3 separate regions of the Homo sapiens genome follow, and all the other regions are linked to region 2. The links come from fine-mapping of genetic effects on gene expression. A gene starts in region 2. Each other region holds a variant in brackets. All regions are shown on one strand. Distances are from middle to middle. Region 1 overlaps WBP2NL (WBP2 N-terminal like). Region 2 holds the start of NDUFA6-DT (NDUFA6 divergent transcript). Region 3 overlaps XRCC6 (X-ray repair cross complementing 6).

Region 1 (6,222 bases), 67 kb after region 2:
GCAGGCGGGCCTTCATTTCCTGCAGGTGGGGCTCCATATCCGAGAGGTGGGGCTCCATATCCGAGAGGTGGGGTTCCATATCCAAGAGGTGGGGCTCCATATCCTAGAGGTGGGGCTCCATATCCTGCAGGTGGGGCTCCGTATCCAAGAGGTGGGGCTCCATATCGCACAGGTGAGGCTCTGTATCCCACAGGCGGGCCTTCATTTCCTACGGGTTGGGCTCCATATCCTGCAGGTGGGGCTCCGTATCCGGGAGGTGGGGCTCCATATCCTGCAGGTGGGGCTCCATAGACAATAACTGGGAATTATAATGGAAGGAAAAAAATTCAGTTACCTTTAAGTCAAGGAATATGTGAGAAGGAAGAACTTAAAAAATAATGCTGAAGCAAACTGACGCAAGAAGAGAAGTCAGGCAGAATAATGCTAAAGCTATTTCCTCTAGCTATCACCAATTGAAGGCATATCACTTCCTGTTGTGCAGGGATTCAAATCAACATGAAAACAACCCTATCAATAGATCGGTGCGTTACTTATACTCTTGCACAGATATGTGTTTTACTTAATAAAGTTTGATTATGAAAAAAAGTAATACATGCTTAATGAGGAATATGCGTTTGGAAAATAGAGAAAAGAGGAATGGAAAAAAGCCATCTATAATTCTACCATTGAACACTTACTATTTTGGTGTATTTCTTTGTAGAATCTCTGTGAATATTCTTTATATAATCATGATCATATCAGCCATATTATTATTATTATTATTATTATTATTATTATTATTATTATTATTTTGAGAGGGGGTCTCGCTCTGTTGCCCAGGCTGGAGTGCAGTGGCGCGATCTTGGCTCACTGCAAGCTCTGCCTCCTGGGTTCATGCCATTCTCCCACCTCAGCCTCCCGAGTAGCTGGGACTACAAGCACCCGCCACCATGCCCAGCTAATTTTTTTGTATTTTTAGTAGAGACAGGGTTTCACCATGTTAGCCAGGATGGTCTCGATCTCCTGACCTCATGATCCACCCGCCTCGGCCTCCCAAAGTGCTGGGATTACAGGCGTGAGCCACTGCGCCCGGCCAGCCATATGATTTTTTAAATCTGGCTCTTTTACTTAATATTATAAGAAATGTCTTCATATTGTTAATTTACTTCATAAATTCAAAGCTGGATAATATTTCATCATATGGATAGATGACTCTTTTTGTTGTTTCTGACTTTCCAATTAACCTTACAATAAACATGAGTTTTACTTATTACCTTGGGTTACATTCCCCAAAGTGATTTAACTGGATAAAGTGAATGGACAGCTGTAAAGTTATTTTGCTTTAATCCAAAATTTATTACAAAACTACTGTAATCAAGACAGTGTTTTACTGGCACAAGGACAGACTTAGAGACCAATGGAATGAATTAAGAGTCCAGAAATAAACCCAAGCATCTATGAACAGTTGATTTTTGACAGAATGCCAAGACCATTCAATGGGAAAAAAACAGTCTCTTCAAAAAATGATTCTGGGACAACTGGATATCTGCACGTAAAAGAATGAGGTTCTTCCCTCACTTCACTCTACAGATAAAAATTAACTTGTAGTGAATCAATGGCCTTAATATAAAACAGAGGTGGCCAATCTTTTGGCTTCCCTGGGCCACATTGGTGAAGAATTGTCTTGGGCCACATATAAAATATACTAACACTAACGATAGCTGATGAGCTATTTTTAAAAATCTCATAACATTTGAAGAAAGTTTATGAATTTGTGTTGGGCTGCATTCAAAGCCATCCTGGGCCATGGGTTGGACAAGCTTGATATAAGAGCTAAAACTATAAAATGCTTAGAAGAAAACAGGGATAAATCTTCATGACATTGGATTTGGCAACGAATTCTCACATTTTACATCAAAAGCATGAGCAACAAGAGGAAAAAAGAGAAATCTGATAAAAATTAAAAACCTTTGTGCATTAAAAGCCATTTTTGCCTGGGCACAGTTGTTCACACCTGTAACCCACTGGCCGAGGCAGGCAGATCATTTGAGCTCAGGAGTTCTAGATGAGTCTGAACAACATGGTGAAACTACATCTCTACTAAAAATACAAAGATTAGCTGTGCAGGGTGGCACACACCCGCAGTCCCAGCTATTCAGGAGGCTGAGGCACAAGAATCACTTAAACCCGGGAGGCAGAGATTGCAGTGAGCCAAGATGGCGCCACTGCACTCCAGCCTGGGTGACAGAGGGAGACTTTGTCTCAAAAAAAAAAAAAAAAAGTCATTATCAAGAATGTGAAAGAAAACCTAAAAATATTTACAAATAATATATCTGACAAGGATTTCATATCCAGACTATATAAAGAATGCTTACAACTCAACAACAAAAAGACAAGCAATCCGATTTAAATAATAAAAAAAATAGGCAAAAGACTTGGACAGTTCTCCAATTAAGGTATATAAAAAGCACATTAAAAGATGTTCAACATCATTAGTCATTAAGGAAATGCAAATTAAAACCACAATGAGATACCACTTCATACCCACTAGAATGGCTTTAATATAGATTTTTTTTTTT[A/T]AAAAAAGGAAGATAAGTGTTGCTGAGGATGTGTAGAAATAGGAACACTTACATTTACACAGGAATGTAAAATAGTGCAGCACTGGAAAATAGTTGGTGGTTCCTCAAAAAGTTAGAGAATTTACATATGACCCAGAAATTCCACTCCAAGATGCATATCCAGGAGAAATGAAAACATATGTCTACGTAGAAAATTATATACAAATGCTCATAGCAGCTAGTATTCGTAATAGCCAAAAGGTGGAAACAAGACAAATGTCCATCAATGGAGGAATGAATACACAAATTGTGGTATATATGTACAATGGAGTATTATTCAGCCAGGAAAAGAAATGAAGTATTGCTACATGCTACAACTTGGAGGAACCTCAAAAACGTTATCTTGAGTGAGATAAGCCAAACACAAAAGGTCACATATTGTATGATTTCTTTTATGTGATATATTCACAATAGGTGAATCAATAAAGACAGAAAGCAGATTAGAGGATACCAGGGGATCAGAGAGGGGACAATGGGGAATAACTTCTTAGTGGCTATTAGGTGATAAAAAGTTTTGAAACCAGACCAGATGCTGTGGCTTACACCTGTAATCCCAGCACTTTGGGAAGCCAAGGCAATAGACTTGCTTGAGCCCAGGAGTGTGAGACCAGCCTAAGCAACACAGTGAGACCCTGTATCTACAAAATTTTTTTAAAAAAAAAGGCTGGCAGGGGCTGGGTGTGGTGGCTCAAGCCTGTAATCCCAGCACTTTGGGAGGCTGAGGCGGGCGGATCACAAGGTCAGGAGATCGAGACCATCCTGGCTAACACAGTGAAATCCCGTCTCTACTAAAAATACAAAAAAAAAATTAGCCGGGCGTGGTGGCGGGCGCCGGTAGTCCCAGCTACTCAGGAGGCTGAGGCAGGAGAATGGCGTGAACCCGGGAGGTGGAGCTTGCATCGCGCCACTGCACTCCAGCCTGGGCGACAGAGCAAGACTCCCTCTCAAAAAAACAAAAACAAAAACAAAAAAGGCTGCCAGAGATGGCTCATGCCTATAATCCCAGCACCTCGGGAGGGCAAGGCGGGCAGATGGCTGGAGGCCAGGAGTTCAGAACCAGCCTGGACAACATAGGGAGATTTCTGTCTCTACAAAAACACATAAAAATTAGCCGGGCATGGTGGATTGCGCCTGTGGTCCTAGCCTACTCTGGTTGGGGGGTACTGAGGTAAGAGGATCGCTTGAGCCCAGGGGGTCGAGGCTGCAGGGGGCCATGATAGTGCCACTGCACTACAGCCTGGGTGACAAAGTGAGACTCTGTCTCCAAAAAAAAAAAACACCACTTTTTGAAACTAGAGACAGCTGGTGGATGTATAATATTGTGAATACGTCAAATACTGCTAAATTTTACACTAAATACCACTGAATTGTACACATTAAAATGTTAATTATATGTTATGTGAATTTCACCAACTGAAAAAATGTTAAACCCTAGCAACAATTACTTTAGATTCTGAATATTAGACTGTAATAACCTTTAAAAACCAAGGTACCTATTAAGGTTACAAATAAGTAGCCTTTAAGTTACATACAAAACTAAAGGCCCATGGACATGCATATCAAGTTCCAAGGAGAACTCAAGAAAAGTCCCATATTTTTGTGTGTGTTGGCAGCATTAGGAGACCCTTGGTGGCCCACCAGTAGGCAGTGGACCATGTTTGAGAATTACTTTCCAGAAACCCCATTCAGTAGCAGTGGACTTTAACAACACAAACTGTTAAAGGACCCAGGGCTCGAGTCCTCAGTAAGGTTGAAGGGTGTGGCACAGGTATGATGACTATGCTATGTGAAATGGAAACAAGGAAGTGGGCAAGAGCATATATTTTCTGCTCAGGCTATAAACAGGAAGTGACCCTTCCCACTAACAGGATTGCCAAGTATGTTCCAGGTTTGTATATATCATTAAAAGTAAGCCTGAAACCAAAGCCCAGTCACTTGCTGACTTTGCCACTGGGTTTCAGTCTGGAAACAAAGTCACAGATGTGACCATTTTCCAAGCCCCTAAAGCTCTGCTGCTGCTCCTGCAGGGAGCAAGCCTGCAAGGGATAGATCTTTGAGCCTCTGGCATAATTTTCCACCTTCCAGGAAGAACCTCTCTGCCATACCTTACCTGAACAAGGCATCTGTGGAGTGCACATATTCCCTTCCCCAGTAATTACATAAATTCCCATAGAGCTGAACCAGTCATTTAAGGTTCTAAGTGGAAATCCTCGGGCAGCTGGAAAGACAAATTTGGCAAAATAGGAACTCTTTTAATTAAGTCAGATATATAGCAGATATCAACTAAACAATTAACAGAGTATTTAATCACCACCTTACATGTGTTTCCAACAATGCTCTTGAGACACAAGATAAAAAAGAAACATGGGCTGGGTGAAGTGGCTCACACCTGTAATCCCAACATTTTAGGAGGCCAAGATGGGAGGATTGCTTGACCCCAGGAGTTCAAGACCAGCCTGGGCAACATGGCAAGACCCTATCTCTACAAAAAATTTTTTAAAAATTAGCCAGGCATGGTGGTGCATGCCTGTGGTCCTAGCTACTCAGGAAGCTGAGGCAGGAGGATTGCTTGAGCCTGGAAATTTGAGGCTGCAGTGAGCCTTATCTGTGCCACTGCACTGGAGCCTCCAGCCTGGGTGACAGAGTAAGACCTTGTCTCAAAAAAAAAAAAAAAAAAGAAAGAAAGAAAAGAAATATGACCCTTGTCCTGAATGGCACGTGTCTTAAGGGCAGAGATTGTATCTCATTTGCCTGTGCTTATTCCAGGCCTAGCATAGCACCTAATCATAACAGATATTCAGAAAAAACTTCTAAGTGAGGATTCTACCAAGTTGGTAAGATATATCCATTAAAGACCAATGTGAGGAAGTGTGGTACCGAAGAAAACACTTTTGTCTTGTCTCCCCTCTGCATCTCTCTTATAAGAACACTTGTGATGGCATTTAGAGGCCACCTAAATAATCTAGGGTAATCTTGTCATCTCAAGATCCTTAAATTAATTACGTCTACAAACACCCTTTTTACAAATAACGTAACAGTCACAGATTCTGAGGATTGGGATGGGGATATATCTGGGGATCCATTATCAGCCTACCACACTGAGTTTTGCCTATGGCATGTGACCAGATGTAATGTAGACAGTTTCCAGGCCTGGCCCATAAAAATTTCCCAGGGGAGATCTTTATTTCCTTCTCTGCTGGCTGTACAAAGAGGCCATGGAAGCCATGGGTTAAAGATCGCAAGGACCGGCCAGGCGTGCTGGCTCACGCCTGTGATCCCAGCACTTTGGGAGGCTGAGGCAGGTGGATCTCCTGAGGTCAGGAGTTCGAGACCAGCCTGACCAACATGGTGAAACCCCGTCTCTACTAAAAATACAAAAATTAGCTGGGCTTGGTGGTGGACACTTGTAATCCCAGCTACTTGGGAGGCTGAGGGAGGAGAATCACTTGAACCCGGGAGGTGGAGGTTGCAGTGAGCCAAGATTGCATGATTGCACTCCAGCCTGGGTGACAAAGCAAGACACTGTCTCAAAAAAAAAAAAAAAAAAAAAAAAAAAAATATATATATATATATATATATATATATATATATATATATACACACACACACACACATATATGAGATA
Region 2 (6,222 bases):
ACCATTATAACATCCAGAGTAATTTCACTACCCTAAATATTCTCTGTGCACCACCTCTGTGCATTTCTCCCCACTCCCAGCCCCTGCCATCTTTTTTATTGTCTCCATAGTTTTGCCTTTTCCAGGATGTAATATAGTTGGAATCATACAGTATGTAGCTCTTTCAGATTGTCTTCTTTCACTTACTAATATGCATTTAAGGTTTCTCCATGCCTTTTCATGGCTTAATAGCTCATTTCTTTCTAGTGCTGAATATAGTCCATTGTCTGGATATACCAAGGTTTATTTATCCATTTACCTGCTAAAGGACATCTTGGTTGCTTTCAAGTTTTGGCAATTACAAATAAAGCTGCTGCTGGCCGGGAGCGGTGGCTCACGCCTGTAGTCCCAGAACTTTGGGAGGCCAAGGCGGGCAGATCACGAGGTCAGGAGATCGAGACCATCCTGGCTAACATGGTGAAACCCCGTCTCTACTTAAAATACAAAAAATTAGCTGGGCTTCGTGGCAGGCGCCTGTAGTCCCAGCTACTTGGAGGCTGAGGCAGGAGAATGGCGTGAACCCAGGAGGCAGAGCTTCCAGTGAGCCGAGATCGCGCCACTGCACTCCACCCTGGGTGACAGAGCGAGACTCCATCTCAAAAACAAAAACAAAAACAAAAGCTGCTGTAAACATCCATGTGCAGGTTTCTGTGTGGACATAAGTTTTCAGCTCATTTGGGTAAACACTAAGGAATGCAATGGCTGGATCTTCTGATGGGAGTATGTTTAGTTTTGTCAGAAAGCCAAACTGTCTTCCAAAGCTGCTGTACCATTTTGCGTTCCTACCAGTAAGGAGAGTTCCTGTTGCTTCACATCCTCACCAGCATTTGGTGTTGTCTCCCTTGCCCATTTCTAAACTTGGCTATTTGTCTTTTCATTACTGAGTTGTAAGAATTTTATGTATCCTAGATACAAGTCCCTTATGGAACATGTGATTTGCAAAAATTTTCTCCCAGTTTGTGGGTTGTTTAGAGGTCTTTTTTTTCTTTTCCTTTTGAGACAGGGTCTCACTCTGTCGCCCAGACTGGAGTCCAGCGGCGCAATCTTGGCTCACCGCAACCTCCACCTCGCGGGCTCAAGCGATCCTCCTGCCTCAGCCTCCCGAGTAGCTGAGATTACAGGTGCCCACCACCATGCCGGCTAATTTTTGTATTTTTAGTAGAGACGGGGGTTTCACCATGTTGGCCAGGCTGGTCTCGAACTCCTGACATCAGGTGATACACCTGCCTTGGCCTCCCAAAGTGTTGGGATTACAGGAGTGAGCCACTGCGCCCCATTTTTTTTTTGAATGTTGAACACAATGAATTTATCATGATAGTGGGTACTTCTGAAGGAGGCAGGGGTATACACAAGGTTAGAATCATACAGGTAGATATCATGGTATAGGTGCTGCGAGAGTCAGAAAACTGACTCTGGCACCAGCTGCCTGGGCTTCAACCCCAATGCTGTAAAGTAACTTAGTCTCTTTGTGCCTCAGTTTTCTCATCTATAAAATGAGTATATCAGCCGGGGGCAGTGGCTCACACCTGTAATCCCAGCACTTTGGGAGGCTGAGGTGGGTGGATCACCTGAAGTCAGGAGTTTGAGACCAGCCTGGCCAACATAGCAAAACCCCGTCTCTACTAAAATACAAGCATTAGCCATGCATGGTGGTGCGCACCTGTAATCCCAGCGATTCGGAAAGCTGAGGCAGGAGAATGGCTTGAACATGAGAGGCGGAGGTTGCAGTGAGCCGAGATTGCACCATTGCAGTCCAGCCTAGGTGAGTCTCACTCTGTCTCAAAAAAAAAAAAAAAAAAGGGTATATCAACACAATCTCACTGGTGTGTTGTGAAGCCTAGCCAAGTTAATGTACCTAGAGAACTAGAGAACAGTGGCTACTAAGGACATCTAAGGACACTTTATACAAACCTTAACTGTGTTACAACTTCTTAAGTCAGTACTGAGGTTCAAAAGCTTCCATTTTATTATTATGCTTTATAATTTATATATGTTACGTGCTTTCTTTTGTATAGCTCACTTGAATATATATATACATTTTAGAAGATAATAAGGAAGAAAAAAAGTATATCTGGTTTTTTAACCCTTCGAAATGGGAAAGTTTGGAGTAGATGCTCAGCCCCGGCCCCTGGCCCTTCCCCAATACTCACAGGCTCCTGTCAACTACACCTTCAGAAAAAGACGGAGCCTCTTAGGCAGCAGTCAGGCAGGTGGGGGCGATCTGTCAGGTGACCTAGACTCTGGGCCATCTCAGTTTCCTCACCTGTAAAATGGGGATGCTGAGGTACCTACCTGACCTATGAGAGCGGAGAACACTGAGATATCTTGCCCATGGCCTGCCCTGTGGTTAGCTGTCGTTTTTTCCTTGACACTTGTAGGCTCCTCTTCATGTTTACATAACCTCAGTGGGAAAACGCCAGCGAAGAGAGACACTCAGAATGGACGATCTAAAGTTCCTTCCAGCTTCCAAATTCTGGGCTGGTTTTCAGAGATCCAGGGCTCGGGATGCGAATGTCCCTGTCTACGATGGGGCTGCCGTTACAGCCTTCCTCCCGGGGCTCTGGAGACGCGCCAGCTCTTTGACACCTCTCCTGCGCTAAGGAAGAGTTGGTTTACAGAAAAGTAAGTATATCCTGGCCCTGCAGAAAGCCGCCAGGCGGCAGGACAAGCCCCACCGCAGCCCAGGCGCCATTATCTGCCTCAGCAGTTACCTCGGGGTCCCGCCACGAGGAGGTTCTTCAAGGCCTGCGCGCCCACGGACACTACCAAGGAGCGCGGCGGGCAGCCGGATAGCAGGACGCTGAGGGAAACCCCGCAGTCGCTCGGCGTCCCCGGCGCCAGCTCACGACCCAGCGACCTCCTGCGGCCCGAGCGTCCCCTGGCGGCAACGCCGGCTCGTTAGAGCGAGCGACAGATGGTGTAGTCCAAAGGCCAAGCGGCGTTTCTGTAGATGAGCATGCGCAGCACCCACCGTTCGCTCAGCCAGAGAGAGGCTTCCCAGCCAATCCGAGAGCCTCAGAGTCATCCTCCCGCCCACCCAGCATACAGGCGGGGCGTTCCTCCTTAGCCAATGGGAAAAGACATTCGCCCGCGGTCCGCACGCGCTGCTTGCAAAGGGGTGGGGTTGTGGAGTGGATGCTTTGGCAAGATGGCGGGGAGCGGCGTCCGCCAAGCTACTTCTACCGCCAGCACCTTCGTGAAGCCCATTTTCAGTCGGGACATGAACGAGGCCAAGCGGAGGGTGCGCGAGCTCTACCGCGCCTGGTATCGGGAGGTGCCGAACACTGGTGAGAGGTAGCGGCTTACGTGGGGACCCGGAGGCCGCCGCTCAAGGTCGTAGCCGGCCCGGCCGGGGTTTCTCATGGGCCCAGCTGAGGTCACCAACTTGGGCAGAGGCGACTGCGGGTGCTTCAGGGGAAGAGGGTCACCCGAGCCTACCATGGGCCGGACCTGGCGGCGGCGCGGTGGTCAGACCGGCCGTGCCTAGCATTCGTACGTGCTATCGGAGCTTTGGTCTCTTTTGTCCTTCGCAATTGGCGGGAGGACGATGACTGTCAGTGACACACTCACTTTGTGGGTGAGGCAGCGGAGGCACCGAGAGGTGAAGTGATGTGCCCAGGGCCCAGGCCGAGCCACTGTTGTACCCAGAACCCAAAGTCTAGAGTTGCAGAGTGTAATTATAGATGCCCGTTGGATTTTTTTGTTTGTGACAGAGTCTCGCTGTGTCGCTCAGGCTGGAGTGCAGTGGTGCGATCTCGGCTCACTGCAAGCTCCGCCTCCCGGATTCACGTCATTCTCCTGCCTCAGCCTCAGCCTCCCGAATAGCTGGGATTACAGGCGCCCGCCACCACGCCGGCCATTTTTTTTTGTATTTTTAGTAGAGACGGGATTTCACCGTGTTAGCCAGAATGGTCTCGATCTCCTGACCTCGTGATCCGCCCGTCTCGGCCTCCCAAAGTGCGAGAAAGAGGTGTTTTTGAGTGAGCTGGAGCACGGTGCCACTCCTCAGGGCTGTCGAGTCCCTGCTTGTGTGTGTGAAAAGGCGGTAGAATGTGGTGGTTAGGAGCACGGACTTTTCTTCAGGCGCTGCCCTCAACTAGCTGTGTGACCTTGGGCCAGTTATTTCATCTATTCCTCAGTTTCTTCATCTTTAAAATGGGAATAATAATTCCTTCTTCAGAAGGTTACTGTATTAAGTTAAAATATCTAGAGTGCTTAGAACAGGACTTGATGCATATTTAACTCATTAAATATTAGCTGCTGCCGTTGTTTTTGTTGTTATTTTTGTTATTTATAGGGCTTTCCTTAGCAGCAGCTTCCAAGCAGAACCCGGTTCTTTGACATATGAGAACTGTGTCTGCTCCACAGAGTCCCTGTCTTCAAGCTGACTTTTGGAAAAATTGCTACTGACCAGAACTTAAACCCACGCGATACTAGAGAAGGAGAAACTTGAGTGATCTGCTGGTTCAGGGACTGCAAATTCAGATGCCTTCAGGGGCAGGCAGATAAAAGATGTGTGTGGGGAGTGACTGTAGCAGTGTGTGTGTGTGTGTGTGTGTGTGTGTTTCGGGGTGGTGCATTCAAATTCAGCAGTTTGAAAACATAATGTTTGCCTGGCAGAATACTTCTAGGAGTACCCAGAACCCTCTCTGGTTGCAGGAGGAAGGTGCTGGGGGAAGGAGGACCACATTCAAAAAGGGTGGCTTGTGAAGGGTAAATCAGTGGCCAAGTAGAAGACAGAACCCAGGTATCCTGACTCTGAGGATCCAGCTCTTTCTAAACCGACCCCTCCCAAGACCTTCCCTCAAATTCTGTTTTGGGAAGAAAGTCCCAAAGTCAGAAGGGTCTTGAGAGGAGGAAAAGAAGGCAGAGGGCTACAGGAGCCTAGAAAGCAAGGGAAGAGGAGAGAAAAGAAGGGGTCAAGGAGTATGCATCCCTATGGGGAAGATCAGTGATCTGTAGCTGGCCAGTTACTCAAACCTGTGCCACACGGGTTTTATGGTATCCATCATCAGGACTCCAGCTGAGGAATCAAATCAAGGAAGGGGAATAAGTAATAGTGTTGAGAACTTAGAACAGCCTGAGCATTAATAAAAAACAAAAGTAAAATTTTAAGTATTTAATGAAAAAAACAGTAATGATAACTCACTTTTTTTTTTTTTTTTTTTTTTGAGACAGAGTCTCGCTCTTGTCTCCCAGGCTGGAGGGCAATGGCGCGATCTTGGCTCACTGCAACCTCCACCTCCCGGGTTCAAGTGATTTCCCCATGCCTCAGCCTCCCGAGTAGCTGGGATTATAGTTGCGTGCCACCACACCTGGCTAACTTTTGTATTTTTAGTAGAAACGGGGTTTCACCATGTTGGCCAGGCTGTCTTGAACTCCTGACCTCAGGTGATCCACCTGCCTTGGCCTCCCAAAGTGCTGGGATTACAGGCGTGAGCCACCGCGCCCAGCTAATAAAATAATAATTATTTTTTTTGAGACGGAGTCTCGCTCTGTCGCCCAGGCCGGACTGCGGACTGCAGTGGCGCAATCTCGGCTCACTGCAAGCTCCGCTTCCCGGGTTCACGCCATTCTCCTGCCTCAGCCTCCTGAGTAGCTGGGACTACAGGCGCCCGCCACCGCGCCCGGCTAATTTTTTGTATTTTTAGTAGAGACGGGGTTTCACCTTGTTAGCCAGGATGGTCTCGATCTCCTGACCTCATGATCCACCCGCCTCGGCCTCCCAAAGTGCTGGGATTACAGGCGTGAGCCACCGCGCCCAGCCTTTTTTTTTTTTTTTTTTTGAGACACAGTCTCACTCTGTCACCCAGGCTGGAATGCAGTGGCCCATCTCAGCTCACTGCACCCTCCACCTCCCGGGTTCAAGTGATTCTCCTGCCTCAGTCTCCCGAGTAGCTGGGATTACAGGCACCCACCACCATGCCCGGCTCATGTTTGTATTTTTAGTGGAGACGGGGTTTCACCATGTTGGCCAGGCTGGTCTTGAACTCCTGACCTCAGGTGATCCACCTGCCTTGGCCTCCCAAAGTGCTGGGATTACAGGCGTGAGCCACCGCGCCCAGCTAATAAAATAATTATTATTTTTTTTGAGACGGAGTCTCGCTCTGTCACCCAGGCTGGAGTGCAGTGGTGCGACCTCGGCTCACTGCAAGGTCCACCTCCCGGGTTCACACCATTCTC
Region 3 (5,000 bases), 460 kb after region 2:
ACAACAATCCACATGGCAAGTAGTCATTTCCATAAATATTTTAATCTACTCTGAGGAGTCTACAAACTTTTAAAAGAATCTGGTAAGGGCTCCTTTTAGGTTCTAAAAATTAAAAACAAAAACTAAAACAGAATTTTAGAAAATGTTTTCTATTGCTTATCAACTACTGAATACTTATTATCGGTTATCAAATTGTGCTCATCTATGAATGTCTCATTTCCTTCCTACCTAACACTACATTTTCTTCTGAGGTCTTTAGGCATCAAGGGTTCCATTAACTCTCTGAAATTACAGGTAGAATTGTGAGTACTATCTTTTTTGAGGGGAAGGTATGTAGCTGTCATCATATCCTCAAAGAGGTCCACGGTTGGCCAGGTGCGGTGGCTCATGCCTGTAATCCCAGCACTTTGGGAGGCCGAAGTGGGCAGATCACGAGGTCAGGAGATGGAGACCATCCTGGCTAACATGGTGAAACCCCATCTCTACTAAAAAACAAGAACAAAAAATTAGCCGGGTGTGGTGGTGGGTGCCTGTAGTCCCAGCTACTCAGGAGGCTGAGGCAGGAGAATGGTGTGAACCCAGGAGGCAGAGCTTGCAGTGAGCCAAGAGCCAGGGCAGCAAAGCGAGACTCCGTCTCAAAAAAAAAAAAAAATAGGTCCACGGTCTAAAAAAGGTTAAAGCACTGCTCTTCAAAGTAATGGTCTCCAAATCAGTAACATCAGCATCACCTGACAATTTACTAGAAATGCAAATTCTTGGTCCCCATTCTAGACATAGAGAATCAGAAATTTTGATTGTGGGGCAAGGTTCTGTAGTCTGTGTTTTAATGTCCTGCAAGTAATTCTGTTTGAGAACCACTTTAAATTAACGATTGTTTTTATTCATAGTTCTATTATTTTATTTTACATACACTTTTTTTTTTTGAGACAGAGTCTGGCTCTATTGCCCAGGCTGGACTGCAATAGTGCCATCTCGGCTCACTGCAACCTCTGCCTCCCAGGTGCAAGCGATTCTCCTGCCTCAGCCTCTGGAGTAGCTGAGACTACAGGCGCACGCCACCACACCCAGCTAATTTTTGTATTTTTAGTAGAGACGAGGTTTCACCATTTTGGCCAGGATGGTTTTGATCTCTTGACCTCGTGATCCGCCCACCTCGGCCTCCCAAAGTGCTGGGATTACAGGCATGAGCCACCGCGCCCAGCCTTTTCTTTTTTTTTTTTTTTCCAAGAGACAGGGTCTTACTCTGTTGCCCAGGCTAGAGTTCACTGGCACAATCATAGCTCAGTGCAGCCTCAAACTCCTGGGCTCAAGCAATCCTCTCACCCCGGCCTCCTGAGTAGCTGGGACTACAAGTGCACACCACCACACCCAGCTTATTCTTTTTTTTTGGTGCAAGATATTCTGGTGTGCCAACTACAAGAACTATTTCTTGTTTTCTTGAGATGGAGTCTCTCTCTGTCACCCAGGATGGAGTGCAGTGGCGTGATCCTGGCTCACTGCAACGTCCACCTCCCCAGTTCAAGCAATTCTCCTGCCTCAGCCTCCTGAATAGCTGCAACTACAGGCCTGCACTACCATGCCCGGCTAATTTTTGTATTTTGAGTAGAGACAGAATTTCACCATGTTGGCCAGGCTGGTCTCGAACTCCTGACCTCAAGTGATTCACTCACCTCAGCCTCCCAAAGTGCTGGGATTACAGGCGTGAGCCACCACACCCTGCCTACCAAGAACTATTTGTACACAAATTAGAACATGAAAAGTTTCTGTTCAGTTCCAAATTCTAAAATTATGAGACATGAGATATATAATAAATCTGTGAAAATTCTTCTCTACGAAGTACACAAAAGAAACAGTAATCCCTCTCCCTCTCCCTCTCCCTATCCCTCTCCCCACGGTCTCCCTCTCCCCACGGTCTCCCTCTCCCTCTCTTTCCACGGTCTCCCTCTGATGCCGAGCCGAAGCTGGACTGTACTGCTGCCATCTCGGCTCACTGCAACCTCCCTGCCTGATTCTCCTGCCTCAGCCTGCCGAGCACCTGCGATTGCAGGCGCGTGCCGCCACGCCTGACTGGTTTTCGTATTTTTTTGGTGGAGACGGGGTTTCGCTGTGTTGGCCAGGCTGGTCTCCAGCTCCTAACCGCGAGTGATCCGCCAGCCTCGGCCTCCGGAGGTGCCGGGATTGCAGACGGTGTCTGGTTCACTCAGTGCTCAATGGTGCCCAGGCTGGAGTACAGTGGTGTGATCTCGGCTTGCTACAACCTCCACCTCCCAGCCGCCTGCCTTGGCCTCCC[A/G]AAGTGCCCAGAGTGCAGCCTCTGCCCGGCCGCCACCCCGTCTGGGAAGTGAGGAGTGTCTCTGCCTGGCCGCCCATCGTCTGGGATGTGAGGAGCCCCTCTGCCTGGCTGCCCAGTCTGGAAAGTGAGGAGCGTCTCTGCCCAGCCGCCATCCCATCTAGGAAGTGAGGAGCGTCTCTGCCCGGCCGCCCATCGTCTGAGATGTGGGGAGCGCCTTTGCCCCGCCGCCCCGTCTGGGATGTGAGGAGCGCCTCTGCCCAGCCGTGACCCCGTCTGGGAGGTGAGGAGCGTCTCTGCCCAGCCGCCCCATCTGAGAAGGGAGGAGACCCTCCACCCGGCAACCGCCCCGTCGGAGAAGTGAGGAGCCCCTCTGTCCGGGAGCCGCCCCGTCTGAGAAGTGAGGAGCCCCTCCGCCCGGCAGCCACCCCATCTGGGAAGTGAGGAGCCTCTCCGCCCAGCAGCCGACCCGTCCGGGAGGGAGGTGGGGGGTCAGCCCCAGCCAGGCCAGCCGCCCCATCCGGGAGGTGAGGGGCGCCTCTGCCCAGCCGCCCCTACTGGGAAGTGAGGAGCCCCTCTGCCTGGCCAGCCGCCCCGTCCGGGAGGGAGGTGGGGGGGTCAGCCCCCCGCCCTGCCAGCCGCCCCGTCCAGGAGGGAGGTGGGGGGGTCATCCCCCCACCCGGCCAGCAGCCCTGTCCGGGAGGTGAGGGGCGCCTCTGCCCGGCCGCCCCTACTGGGAAGTGAGGAGCCCCTCTGCCCAGCCACCACCCCGTCTGGGAGGTGTGCCCAACAGCTCATTGAGAACGGGCCATGATGACAATGGTGGTTTTGTGGAATAGAAAGCGGGGAAAGGTGGGGAAAAGATTGAGAAATCGGATGGTTGCCGTGTCTGTGTGGAAAAAAGTAGACATGGGAGACTTTTCATTTTGTTCTGTACTAAGAAAAATTCTTCTGCCTTGGGATCCTGTTGATCTGTGACCTTACCCCACAACCCTGTGCTCTCTGAAACATGTGCTGTGTCCACTCAGGGTTAAATGGATTGAAGGCAGCATGCTCGTTAAGAGTCATCACCACTCCCTAATCTCAAGTACCCAGGGACACAAACACTGCGGAAGGCCTCAGGGTCCTCTGCCTAGGAAAACCAGAGACCTTTGTTCACTTGTTTATCTGCTGACCTTCCCTCCACTATTGTCCTATGACCCTGCCAAATCCCCCTCTGTGAGAAACACCCAAGAATGATCAATAAAAAAAATAAATTAAAAAAAAAAAAAAAGAAACACTAATCTTTTTAATTAAGCTGAAATTTAGATTTTCTAAGTGAACAATTAAGAGGTATTTAATACATTCACAATGTGCCAGGCATAGTGGCACATGCCTTAACCCCAGCCACACAGGAGGCTGAGGTGGGTGGATTGCTTGAGCCCAGGAGTTCCAAACCAGCCTGAGCAATAGTGAGACACCATCTCAAAAAAAAAAAGCAAGGCCGGGTGCCATGGCTCACGCCTGCAATCCCAGCACTTTGGAAGGCCGAGGCGAGCAGATCACGAGGTCAGGGGTCCAAGACCATCCTGGCCAATATGGTGAAACCCCATCTCTACTAAAAATACAAAAATTAGCTGGGCATGGTGACACGTGCCTGTAATCTCACCTACTCGGGAGGCTGAGGCAGGAGAATCGCTTGAACCAGGGAGTCAGAGGTTGTAGTGAGCCAAGATTGTGCCACTGCACTCCAGCCTGGTGACAGAGCGAGACTCCAACTCAAAAAAAAAAAAAAAAAAAGCATAAATGCACACACAAGGCTGGGCGCAGTGGCTCACACCTGTAATCCCAGCACTTTGGGAGGCCGAGGCAGGCGGATCACTTCAGGAGATTGAGACCATCCTGGCTAACACGGTGAAACCCCGTCTCTACTAAAAACACAAAAAATTAGCCAGGCATGGTGGCAGGTGCCTGTAGTCCCAGCTACTCTGGAGGCTAAGGTAGGAGAATGGCATGAACCCGGGAGGCGGAGCTTGCAGTGAGCCAAGATCACGCCACTGCACTACAGCCCGGGTGACAGAGCGAGACTCCGTCTCAAAAATAATAATAAAAATAAATAAATAAATAAATACACACACAAACATTCACAATGTTGTGCAACTACCAACTCTAGTTCCAAAAAATTTTCATCACCCCAAAAGCAAACCCCATACCCATTGAGCAGTTGCTCCCTGTTCCTCTCTTCCCTGTGCCTCAGGTAACCAACCACCCCTCTGCGTTAAGAACTTACCTATTCTGGATATTTCATGTAAATGAAATCATACAATATTTGACTTTTTGTATCTGGCTTCTTTCACTTAGCATAATACTTTCAAGATTCATCTACTTTGTAGTATGTATCAATTATTCATTCCTTTTCATGGAATGTATATCTATATGCCACTGTTTAGCCATTCAAAATGTTTTGGAATAAGATAGAGGTGGTGGCTGCATAACATTGTGAATGTGTTAAGTGTCACTGAATTGTATACTTTCAAATAGTTAATTTTATGTTACATGAAACACAACCTCAATTTAAAGAAACAAGAACAGGTCAGGTACAGTCAATCACGCCAATTTCTCCACAGCCTTGCCAACACTTATTTTCTGCTGGTGTTTTTTAAATTTTAGTTTGTTTATATAGTGGGTGTGAGTGGTAGCTCATTATGGTTTTCATTTGCCTTTCTCTAATGAC

The links.
Region 1: its variant is fine-mapped to the expression of NDUFA6-DT in whole blood (TOPMed, PIP 0.97).
Region 3: its variant is fine-mapped to the expression of NDUFA6-DT in whole blood (INTERVAL, PIP 0.95).

What each region holds. Positions count from the first base shown.
Region 1 is chr22:42,020,842-42,027,063 of GRCh38, reverse strand. It overlaps WBP2NL (WBP2 N-terminal like), which reads right to left. Exons shown (of 6, transcript NM_152613.3): 5 at 4,708-4,815; 6 at 1-298. Among named protein-coding and RNA genes, the nearest start is that of WBP2NL, 25 kb to the right of the region's middle. The variant A/T (reference allele first, on the strand shown) is at 2,559.
Region 2 is chr22:42,087,710-42,093,931 of GRCh38, reverse strand. NDUFA6-DT (NDUFA6 divergent transcript) reads right to left here and starts at 2,999. Exons shown (of 5, transcript NR_034118.2): 1 at 2,751-2,999; 2 at 2,332-2,635; 3 at 1,700-1,813. It overlaps NDUFA6 (NADH:ubiquinone oxidoreductase subunit A6), which reads left to right and starts at 3,160. Exons shown (of 3, transcript NM_002490.6): 1 at 3,160-3,326. The coding sequence starts at 3,188.
Region 3 is chr22:41,629,050-41,634,049 of GRCh38, reverse strand. All of the region lies in intron 3 of XRCC6 (X-ray repair cross complementing 6), which reads right to left. Among named protein-coding and RNA genes, the nearest start is that of XRCC6, 10 kb to the right of the region's middle. RefSeq lists an enhancer at 2,992-3,645. The variant A/G (reference allele first, on the strand shown) is at 2,291.